Linked DNA regions of Homo sapiens: region 1 is linked to region 2. The links come from fine-mapping of genetic effects on gene expression. A gene starts in region 2. The other region holds a variant in brackets. All regions are shown on one strand. Distances are from middle to middle.

Region 1 (5,370 bases), 27 kb before region 2:
TAAAGCAGGAAGTGCTGATGGAGAATTGGCAGCAAGTTATCCCAAGGATCTAGCTAAGATCACTGACGAAGGTGGCTACAATAATCAACAGGTTTTCGATGTAGACCAAACAGCCTTCTATTGAAAGAAGATACCATCTAGGACTTCCATAGCTAGAGAGGAGAAGTCAATGCTTGGCTTCAAAGCTTCAAAGGACAGACTGATTCTCTTGTTAGGGGCTAAGGTAGCTGGTGACTTTAAGCTGAAGCCAATGCTCGTTGACCCTTCTAAAACTCCTAGGGACCTTAACAATTAAGCAAGATGTACTCTGCCTGTGCTTGTAAATGGAACAGGCCTGGATGACAGCATATCTGTTTACAGTATGATTTATTCAATATTTTAAGCCCACTGTTGACACCTACTGCTTAAAATACTACTGCTCATTGACAATGCACCTGGTCTCCCAAGAGCTCTGATGGACAGGTAAGAGGAGAGTAATGTTTTCATGCCTGTTAACACAACATTAATTCTGCAGCCCATGGATCAAGGAGTAATTTTGACTTTCAAGTCTGTTTTTTAATTAATTAATTTTTTTTTTTTTTGAGACAGGGTTTTCTTACTCTGTCACCCAGGCTGGAATGCAGTAGCATGATTATGGCTTACTGTAGCCTCAAACTCCTGGGCTCAAGTGATCCTCCTGTCTCAGCCTCCCAAGTAGCTGGGACTACAGGTGCATGGTATTTCACCTGGCTAATTTTCGTTGTTGTTTTTGAATGGAGTCTCGCTTTGTCACCCAGGCTGGAGTATAGTGGCGTGATCTCGGCTCACTGCAACCTCCGCCTCCCGAGTTCAAGCGATTCTCCTGCCTCAGCCTCCCAAGTAGCTGGGATTACAGGTGCCCGCCACCACGCTTGGCTAATTTTTGTATTTTTAGCAGAGACAGGGTTTCATCATGTTGGCCAGGCTGGTCTTGAACTCCTGACCTCAGGTGATCCACCCACCTCAGCCTCCCAAAGTGTTGGGATTACAGATGTGAGCCACTGCACCCGGCCTCCTGGCTAATTTTTAAATTTTAATTTGTAGAGATGTCTCACTATGTTGCCCAGGCTGGTCTTGAACTCCTGGCCTCAAACAATCCTCCTCCCTTGGCCTCCCAAAGTGCTGAGATTACAGACGTGAACCACCATATCTGACCCTCAAGTTACATTATTTAAGAAATACATTTTGTAAGGCTATAGCTGCAATAGACAGTGATTCCTCTGTTGGATCTGGGCAAAGTAAACTGAAAACCTTCCATTGTAGATGCCAGTAAGAACATTTGTGACTCAGGAGAGGAGGTGAAAATATCAACATGAATAGGAATGTGGAAGAAGTGGATGCTAATTTAGAAGAAGTGGATGCTAAGAAGTGGATGGAGGAAGTGGATCCATGTGGATGATTTTGAGGGGTTTAAGACTTCAGTGGAGAAATGAACTGCAGATGTGGTGGAAGTAATAAGAGAAAACTAGAATTAGACATGAAGCCTGCAGATATGAGCGAATTGCTGCAATCTCATGATAAAACTTGAATGAATGAGTTGCTTCTTATGTATGAGTCAAGAAAGTGGTTTTTGAGATGGAAGCTACTCCTGGTGAAGATGCTGTGAATGACAACAAAGGATTTGGAGCAGGGTGTCCAGTCTTTTAGCTTTCCTGGGCCACACTGGAAGAAGAATTGCCTTGTTCTACACATAAAATACACTAACAACTAACGATATGTGATGAGAAAACAAACAAACAAAAAACGCAAAGAAAATCTCATAATATTTTAAGAAAATTTACAAATTTGTGTTGGGCCACATTCAAAGCCGTCCTGAGCTGCACGTGGCCTGCGGGTTGGACAAGCTTGATTTAGAATATTCTATAAATTGTCTGGGAGTGGTGGCTCACACCTGTAATCCCCACACTTTGGGGGGCCGGGGCAGGTGGATCACCTGAGATCAGGAGTTCAAGACCAGCCTGGCCAACATGGTGAAACCCTGCCTCTACTAAAAATACAAAAAATTAGCCAAGCGTGGTGGCGGACGCCTGTAATCCCACCTACTCTGGAGGCTGAGGCAGTAGAATTGCTTGAATCTGGGAGGTGGAGGTTGCAGTGAGCCGAGATCGTGCCACTGCACTCCAGCCTGGGCAACAAAAGTGAAACTCCATCTCAAAAAAAAAAAAAAAAAA[AG/G]AATATTCCATAAACTTAGTTGATAAAGCAGCAGCAGAGTTAGAAAGAATTGACTCTAATTTTGAAAGAAGTGCTACTGTGAATCAAACAGCATTGCATGCTACAGAGAAATCCGTCATGAAAAGAAGAGTCAATTGATGCAGCAAACTTTATTGTTGTGTTATTTTAAGAAATTGTGGCTGGGTGCAGTGGCTCACACCTGTAATCCCATCACTTTGGGAGGCCCAAGCGGGCCCAGGAACTCCTTGAGCCCAGGAGTTCGAGACCAGCCTGGGAAACATAGTGAGACTGTGTCTCTGCAAATAATAAAAACATAGGCTGGGTGTGGTGACATGCACTTGTGGTTCCAACTACTCGGAAGGCTGAGGTCGGGGCATTGCCAAGGTGATCAGGGCTGCTGCAAGCCATGATTGTGGCATTGCACTCCAGCCTGGGCAACAGAGCAAGACCCTGTCTCAAAACACAAAAAACAAAAACAAAAAAAATAAAAAGAAAGAAAGAAATTGCCATAGCCACCCTACTCTTCAGCAGTTAGTCAGCAGCCATCAACATTGAGGCAAGACCCTCTCCAGCAAAAAGACTACAAGTCGCTTGCTAAAGTCTCAGATGATTGTTAGCATTTTTTTCAGCAAATAAAGTATTTTTAAGTTATGTACTTTTTTTAGACATACTACTGTACACTTAATAGACTACAGTATAGTATAAAAGTAACTTTTTTTTTTTCAGACAGAGTTTTGCTCTTGTTGCCCAGGCTGGAGTGCAATGGCATGTATCTCGGCTCACTGCAACCTCTGCCGCCCGGGTTCCAGCGATTCTCCTGCCTCAGCCTCCCGAGTAGCTGGGATTACAGGTGCCTGCCACCATGCCTGGCTAATTTTTTGTATATTTAGTAGTGACGGGGTTTCACCATGTTGGCCAGGGTGGTCTCGAACTCCTGACCTCAGGTGATCCGCCTGACTTGGCCTCCCAAAGTGCTGGTATTACAGGTGCGAGCCACTGCACCCGGCCGTGTAAATGTAAATTTTATATGCACTGGGAAACAAAAAAATTTGTGTGATTTGCTTTATTGTGATATTAATTTTGTTGCAGTGGTCTGGAACTGAACCTGCAATACCTCTGAGGTATGCCTGTAACAGCCAAAATATAGAATGTCTTAGGGCTTCCCCACAAAAGGTTTTGGGGTTTTGGGAAAATTTGGGGAAGGCCACTGGAGTGTGTCTGGAGTGAACATAATCCCCTATGAATATTTCAGCAGAAAAAGGCGGAGGGCAACTGCCCAAAGAAAGCACAGACGTGCAGGGCAGAACGACAGTCTACATGACGCCATTTTTCATATATTTAATTAGCGAAGAACAAAACGCCCTGGAATATACTGTGTGGGTGAATTTCTGGGGAACCGACTGGCAGAGACGTGAGGCTCATCGAGTGGCCAGGGGCTCCTCCACATTGCCCAGACTCTTTTGCAGTCAGGCTGAGGCCATATGACTGGTTCTGACAGGTAGGATGTGGGTGAAAGTGATGTAAGCCACTTTGCTTAAAATTTTCCCACACATTCATCCAGGCCTCTCTCCCCTGGCTGTGGCAACAGTGGAGGCCACATGTTCCAACTGGCTTAGTTCACAATGGAAGCAGCCTGGATCCCTGGGATGCTGCTTAGAGAGCCACCCCATCTGCATCAGATGTGACGCAAGAGAAAAAACAAGCCTTTGCTGTGTTAAATACTAAGATTTGGGGGACTAATTGTTCCTACAGCATAGCCCGTCCCGTCCTAATACATAATGTTCATGGGAGTGTCCTTTCTGAAGGATGATTTGGCCAAACCATCACAAGTTTTAAATATGCATACTCTTAGCTATGGGCTGAATGTTTGTGCCCCTCTAAAATTTTTGTGTTGTAATCGAATCCCAGTGTGCTGGCATTAACAGGTAGGGCCTTTGGGAGGTGACTAGGTCACCAGTGTGGAGCCCTCATGAATGGGATTAGTGTTCTTTTTAGAGGCTGGGCATGGTGGCTCATGCCTGTAATTCCAGCACTTTGGGAGGCCGAGGCAGGTGGATCACCTGAGGGCGGGAGTTTGAGACCAGCCTGACCAATATGGACAAACCCCATCTCTAATAAAAATACAAAATTAGCTGGGCATGGAGGCGTATGCCTGTAATCTCAGCTACTCAGGAGGCTGAGGCAGGAGAATTGCTTGAACGTGGGAGGTGGAGGTTGCGGTGAGCCAAGATCACACCATTGCACTCCAGCCTGGGCAACAAGAGCAAAACTCCGTGTCAAAAAAAAAAAGAAAAATTATTAGAGCCCTAAGGGAGCTTGTCTGCTCCTTCCACCAGGTAAGGACGCCACAGGTAGGTGCCATCTTGGAAGCAGAGAGCAGCCCTCCCCAAATCAAATCTGCTGGCTCCTTGATTTTGGACTTCCCAGCCTCCAGAACCATGAGCAATAAATTTCTGCTACTTGTAAGTTTCTCAGTGTATGGTATTTGTTATAGCAGCCCCAAAGGACTGCTATAACACTCTTCGACCCAGGAATTCCACTTCTAGGAACTAATCTTGCTGATATATTTGCATGGATACAACAAGGACATATACAACAATAAATCGATTATAATTACAAAAGGCTAACCATGACATTAATGCATGTTAATAGGCAAAACCAAAACCAAAACAAAAAACAGCAACTTGTTAGCTCAATGTTAGGTACATTTATCAGTGCAATACTCTGTAATGATTAAAAAGAAAGAGGAAGTTCTGGAGGGCTGACATAAAATGCTGTTCAAGACATGAGTGATAAAAGCAAGGGCAAGAGTATGCGTGGCATGCTACCAACTGCCTACAAACTGGACTGGATCCATGCAAATGCTGGATATCTTTGGAGATGGAAAGAAGAGATTGACAAGAGTGGTTGAGGGAACTGGGGAATGGGTGGGAACTGTCACTGACTTTTAACTTCTACTTTCTTCTATTGTTTAAATTTGTTACCATGTTACTAAAATATCAATATAAGAGAAAGTTATAAAAATAATGGAAATAAAAAGCATATGGAGTTGTGTCCCAATCCATCATCCTACACACAGTTAGCGCTTAATATTTACTTGAATAACCAAGTCCATCTAAGCAGCTTTGTGATGAACCTAACCCAGAACAAGCAAGAGGGATCCTGACAAAAATGGTGACT
Region 2 (5,370 bases):
TAAATTGTTCTACCATAAAGATACATGCACACGTATGTTTATCATAGCACTAGTCACAATAGCAAAAACATGAAATCAACCTAAATGCCCATCAACGGTAGACCAGATAAAGAAATGTGGTACATATATACCATGAAATACTATGTAGCCATAAAAGAGAATGAGATCATGTCCTTTGCAGCAACATGGATGGAGTTAGCGGCTATTATCCTAAGCAAACTAACACAGGAACAGAAAATCAAGTGCCCCATGCTCTCACTTAGAAGTGGGAGCTAAACATTGGGTACATCTGAACGCAAAGAAGGGAACAACAGACACCAGGACCTACTTGAGGGTGGAGACAGTGGGGAGGGTGAGGATCAAAAACCACCCATCTCGGGCCTGTGCAGTGTGTCAGACCTGTAATCCCAGCACTTTGGGAGGTGGAGGCAGGCAGATCGCTAGAGCTCCAGAGTTTGAGACCAGCCTGGGCAACATGGTAAAACCCTGTCTCTACAAAAAATACAAAAAAATTAGTCAGGCATGGTGGTGCCAGCTACTCGGGAGGCTGGGGCAGGAGGATCACCTGAGTCCAGGAGGTCGAGGCTATGGTGAGTGGCAGTGATCGTGCCACTGCACTCCTGCCTGAGCAATAGAGACCCTGTCTCAAACAAACCCAACAACTACCTATTGGGTACTATGCTTACTACCTGGATGATGAAATAATCTGTACACCAAACCCCCATGGCATACAATTTACCTATGTAACAAACCTGTATACGTACCTCTGAACCTAACATAAAGTTTAAAAAAACCAAATACACAAACACTGGCTTTGTCTCTCACTACCTGTGTGACATTGAAAAAGTTACTTAACTTTTCTGGTCCTCAGTTTCCTAATCTGCAAAATGGAGATGAAATGCTAACCTCATAGGGATATAATGATTTAATTAGAAAATGTATACAGAACTCTCGATTCACAGAGGGCATAATGAAGGTGGAAAGGTGATATAGGGAAGGAACTGGCTGCAGGGTTCCACCTGAAATTGGGGGTGCCCAAGCCCAGATCACCTCCTCTTTCATCTGAGGCCAGTCCTTGGTGCCGCCCACATGCCTTGCTAATTTCAGCATTTAGAAGTTTGAAATGCACACTGAACCTAGTCAGAGCTCTTCACAAGGGGGCAGGGGTGGGGAATGACACATTTCTTTTGGATGACATGCCCAGGCCACCCCCACATCTTTGTGCACTCTCAATCCCAAGACTACTGGCAATCCAGTTCCAGGAACACGAATGTTTCTGCTCCTCTGGGAAACTCATGCAAGCTGGCACAGGAGAACCCACAGCAATACTCAGTACAGGGACTGTGACCACTGCTCTACCTGCTGCCACCACAGAGCCAAGCCACTGCTGCAGAACACAGCTCCTAGACCCTTCATGAGACCCATCTCCAGCCAGGCCATCAGGAGCCAGGAAGAAAAACGGCTGCCCCCAAATTCTACATGTTCCCATGTTCCTCCTACCCCCAGCACATGCCCAGCAGCACGGCCCATCTCTTTCTCCACTTACCCACCCCTCTTCTCCAGCAGCCAGGAGATGGGAGGGTTGATGGAACCAACCCCTCTCTCTGCTGCAGATCTAAAGTTATTCTTCAATTGAGACCCCACAGAATCTGCCAAACAGCCTGCCATCTACCAAAACCCACATCAACCCCATCTTAGCCAGATACAGAAATGAAGCTTTTCCTGCTGCCCTCTTAGAGGGGCAGAGGCCAATGATGAGCTCCAGTCTCCCAAGGCCAGCCCACGGGACACAGTGGAACACACAGTGCCTGGGCCACTGGCCCAAGCAGATCAGGCAGGGCTCCTAGGAGCTACTCAGGCCCCCTTCTCTGCTGGAAAATCAATTTCAACCCAGCAGAGGCCCACTGGCCTTGCCGCACAGTGAGTCCATAATGAATGATAATTACCGGTGTCATTATTCATCAAGCAAGTACTGACTGAGTGCCCACTGTGCCAGGCACTATGCTAGGCCCAGGACAATCCCCCGTACATCCTGGGGCCCAGCAACACCACGCATCAGAAACCAAACACAACTTCAGGTGCAAGGAAAATAATGAAGGCGTCAGGCCTGCCTTGGTTTCTCCCTAACCTTTTAGGCTTAAATCCCCCCACCTCCCCTTACCCCGTCCACACCCAGGACTGGAATCTGCTCACCCGGTTCCCTTGGAAGTCCCTGGAGGAAGCACATCCGCTGGGGGGAAGGGTCCCTGCTTCCCTGGAAGACTGTCACGGCCACTACCCTTCTGTCTAGCGCAGCAACGGCCTGCCAGCCTCTTCCACGCTGCTCACAGACCCTGGCACGCCGGCTCTGAGTTTATGAATCACTCCCTCCTCTCTCCGGGCCTCGCCTCCGGAAGGGCTTCGCACACTCACACATCACCCAGACACCGAGTTTCCACACCAAATTCGCTCCTGCAGAACTCCGAGAACCGACTGCAACATCTGCTCCCCTTGGTCTCGGGGTTCTGGCCACAAGTTTTCAAAACCCAGGCAGCCTCTCTCCTGCCCGCTGCGCTTTGGGGGCTCCCTCTCCTTGGGGGCTGCGGGGGCAGCAGACAAAGGCCGTGGATGTGACGGAGGGGTGTGAGGACGTGCCTGCTGTAGAGGCCAAATCCCCCGCGCTCCCAGGAATGTGCATTTCGGTGTGTGGCATGTGCCTGGCCGGTGTGGGTGTGCGCAGATCAGCCTGCGCCGTGTGCGGGGTATGAGTGGCGATGAGCTGTGTGTACCTGGCAGGTGTGATCCGGTTGCAGCGGGTTGTGGGTGCCTGCCTGGGCTTTTCCCCGAGCTGGGAACTCCACCTCCCACCGTCCGCTTCGCCCCCTTCTCCCTCCAAAGTCTGGCGCGCGCGCCTGGACGCGGAAGGCGGGGGCTCCCGGCTGGGCGGCCTCCCCCGGGCTGGGCGGCGGTTCCAGGACGCCGGCGCCCCACTTACCCCGGCCGCCGAGACTCCACCGGCGGCCCCGACCCTCCGCGGCTGGGGTCCGGCGCGGGCAGCATCCGCTCGCAACTTCGCTTTCCTCCTGGAAGATCCCGGCAGAAGCGGTTCCGCGGCCCCGGCGCCCGCGCGGCCCGAGCTGTGCGTCTTCTCCGGGGCGGGCCGGAGGGATGGAGGCGCTGCGGGGCCGGTCGGCACGCTGGAAGGGAAGCGGCGCCAGGCGGGCGCCGTCCTGCGCAGCGAGCCTGCGAGAGGTCCTGCCTGGCGCCCTCCCCGCTCAGGCCCGAGCCGGCTAGCGGCGGCGGATTCCTGAACCGCGTCCAAGGCGTCCGGGAGCCCTTCTCCTCCTCCTCCTCCTCTTCCTCACCCCACCCAGCTCCCACCCCTGCGCGCCCGGCAACTTGGGAACCGTTGGCGAAGTTGGCGCTGCTCGGGCCGCGAGCCGGCCGGGCCTCTGGGGGAGGAAGGGGAGGAGAAGGAGGAGCTGGCGGGAGAGGAGAGGAGGGGAGAGAGGGGAGAGAGGGGAGCCGCCCCCGGGGAGCCGCTGTCTCCAGGACCCCTCTGCGGGCCTTTGTTCCGGGCGCTGCCCCTCGGCCCTCCAGTCCCCGGGGACTCGCTTGGGGCCGCTCGGGTATCCACGCTCTCCTGGCGAGGCTGGTGGGTGGAGGCTGCTTGGAGAACCCCCTTGGCTTCTCCGTGCCGGAGCGCCCGGGGCCGTTACGGCCGCCCCCTCCCCCGACCTTTGCCAGGGAGACCCTCTGGCTGCACGGGTTCCCCATCATCTCTGCCCGGAGAGGATCTTCCTGCTCCCCCCTGGGGCAAGTGGGCTGGAGGACGGTTTCCCTGGTTCCAAAGAACAGAGCACCGTCTCCCTGGGCGGCAGCAGGTCCCACATCCGCCCTCCTGCACTTTCCTGCGCCGCCAGCCAGTCCAAGGCTCCCCTAATTCAAGAACTGGGAAACGGGAGGGACAGAGGGTCTTCCCGGCCCGCCAGGGCTGCCTGGCATTATCTTCGGACCCTCCCAGGCAGCTGGGTCTCCGGCCGGGCTGCCAGGCAAGTGGGGTCCCAGTCGCCTCCCGTGCATGGCGTGGTCGGCTGGGCAGCACCGGCTGCGGGGTGCAAAGGCCAGCTTCTCGAGGGATGAGGTAAAGGGCTCAGAACTGGAACACAAACCGAACCTCCCTGTTCCTTTCCGAATCCTGGTGATGGCCCTGTCCCCGAGAAGGCGAGAACGTCTTGGATTCCACTTGCTGGGCATTCCTCCTGGGACTTCCAGTACGTAACGTCATGAGCTAATTCAGGCCTAAGACAGCACTCCTGACATTTAATGGGATAGTATGGGGTTTAGACAATAAGTTATTTCCTGTACAGGAGAAGTAGGAAAATCCAAAAAAGCTAAAACCTGATTATCTACACTTGGCCTCCCTCTGCCATTCTCAGCATTTACAGATGGACAGCAAATAGAGAACCAGATAGAACTAATCCTGACCCTGTTAGGGACAAGTTGCCCCAGGAACCCCCCGCCCCACACACAATGCAGCTGACCCTTACCCTGAATACTCCGAAGCTGCATTCCTGGACCCTTATCTAGGTGCTACAGCAAGGTCACCAGACTTGCTTACAGCCCAACAGGCAGCATGGGGAAGGTCACGAGAAATGTGGATAAACTTAAGTTACACCCTCTTCTAAATTCCTATATTGTAAGCGGTCACGAGATGATATGTGGTAAAGTTAACCGACAACCCCAGGGTCTCTCTCCCCCATATGAACCCCTCATTTTATAAGCTCCAGGGCTGCCTCCTCTGACTGTGGTGGAGCAGCCCGGCAGGATAAACTTACTCGCCTAACTTTGGGTCTCTCTCTTGTCCTTTCTCTCAGCTAACGTTACATTTTGGTGCCGAAACCCAGGAAGGGGACAGGCTCTGGCTGCGTGTCCTTAGAGGTGTCTCTCTCTCTCTCCCTCTCCCCCCTCCCCTCTCTCTCTCCTATCACCCCTCACCCAAGGGCCTTGTCCAGAATAGAGGAGACCTGAAGGACACCTGACTCGGTGGCTGCCTCTATTCCAGACAAGGCCTGCAGGACAGGGGACACCCTCTCTCGCCATCCTTGTCATCTGCAGTCTCTTCTTCCTCTACCCCCCACCCTCCATTCACTATGGGAGCCTCTCAGTCTACCCATCCCAAGACCACCCGCCTTGGCTGTCTCCTCTGCAATCTCAAGGCTCTCAGCCTCCATTCAGAGGTCCGTTCTAAGAGACTTATCTTTTACTGCAATACCACTTGGCCTCAATACCAATTGGACAATGGCTCCCAATGGCCTGAAAATGGCACTTTTGATTTCAATATACTTAGAGACTTAGACGACTTTTGCCATCGCAGTGGGAAATGGTCTG

Which allele goes with the higher level. Alleles are on the strand shown, and positions count from the first base shown. SD is a standard deviation of normalised expression in the study named.
In carriers of allele G in region 1, the expression in prefrontal cortex of the gene that starts at base 3,274 in region 2 tends to be lower than with AG alone (small effect, 0.33 SD a copy in CommonMind).

What was found. PIP is the estimated chance that this variant, and not a neighbour inherited with it, causes the effect.
Region 1: its variant is the best candidate, but not a certain one, in a credible set for the expression of CHST3 in prefrontal cortex (CommonMind, PIP 0.89).

What each region holds. Positions count from the first base shown.
Region 1 is chr10:71,989,479-71,994,848 of GRCh38, reverse strand. The region is part of intron 1 of CHST3 (carbohydrate sulfotransferase 3); the gene reads right to left. Among named protein-coding and RNA genes, the nearest start is that of CHST3, 28 kb to the right of the region's middle. RefSeq lists a silencer at 3,057-3,230. The variant AG/G (reference allele first, on the strand shown) is at 2,190.
Region 2 is chr10:71,962,299-71,967,668 of GRCh38, reverse strand. It overlaps CHST3 (carbohydrate sulfotransferase 3), which reads right to left and starts at 3,274. Exons shown (of 3, transcript NM_004273.5): 1 at 2,975-3,274.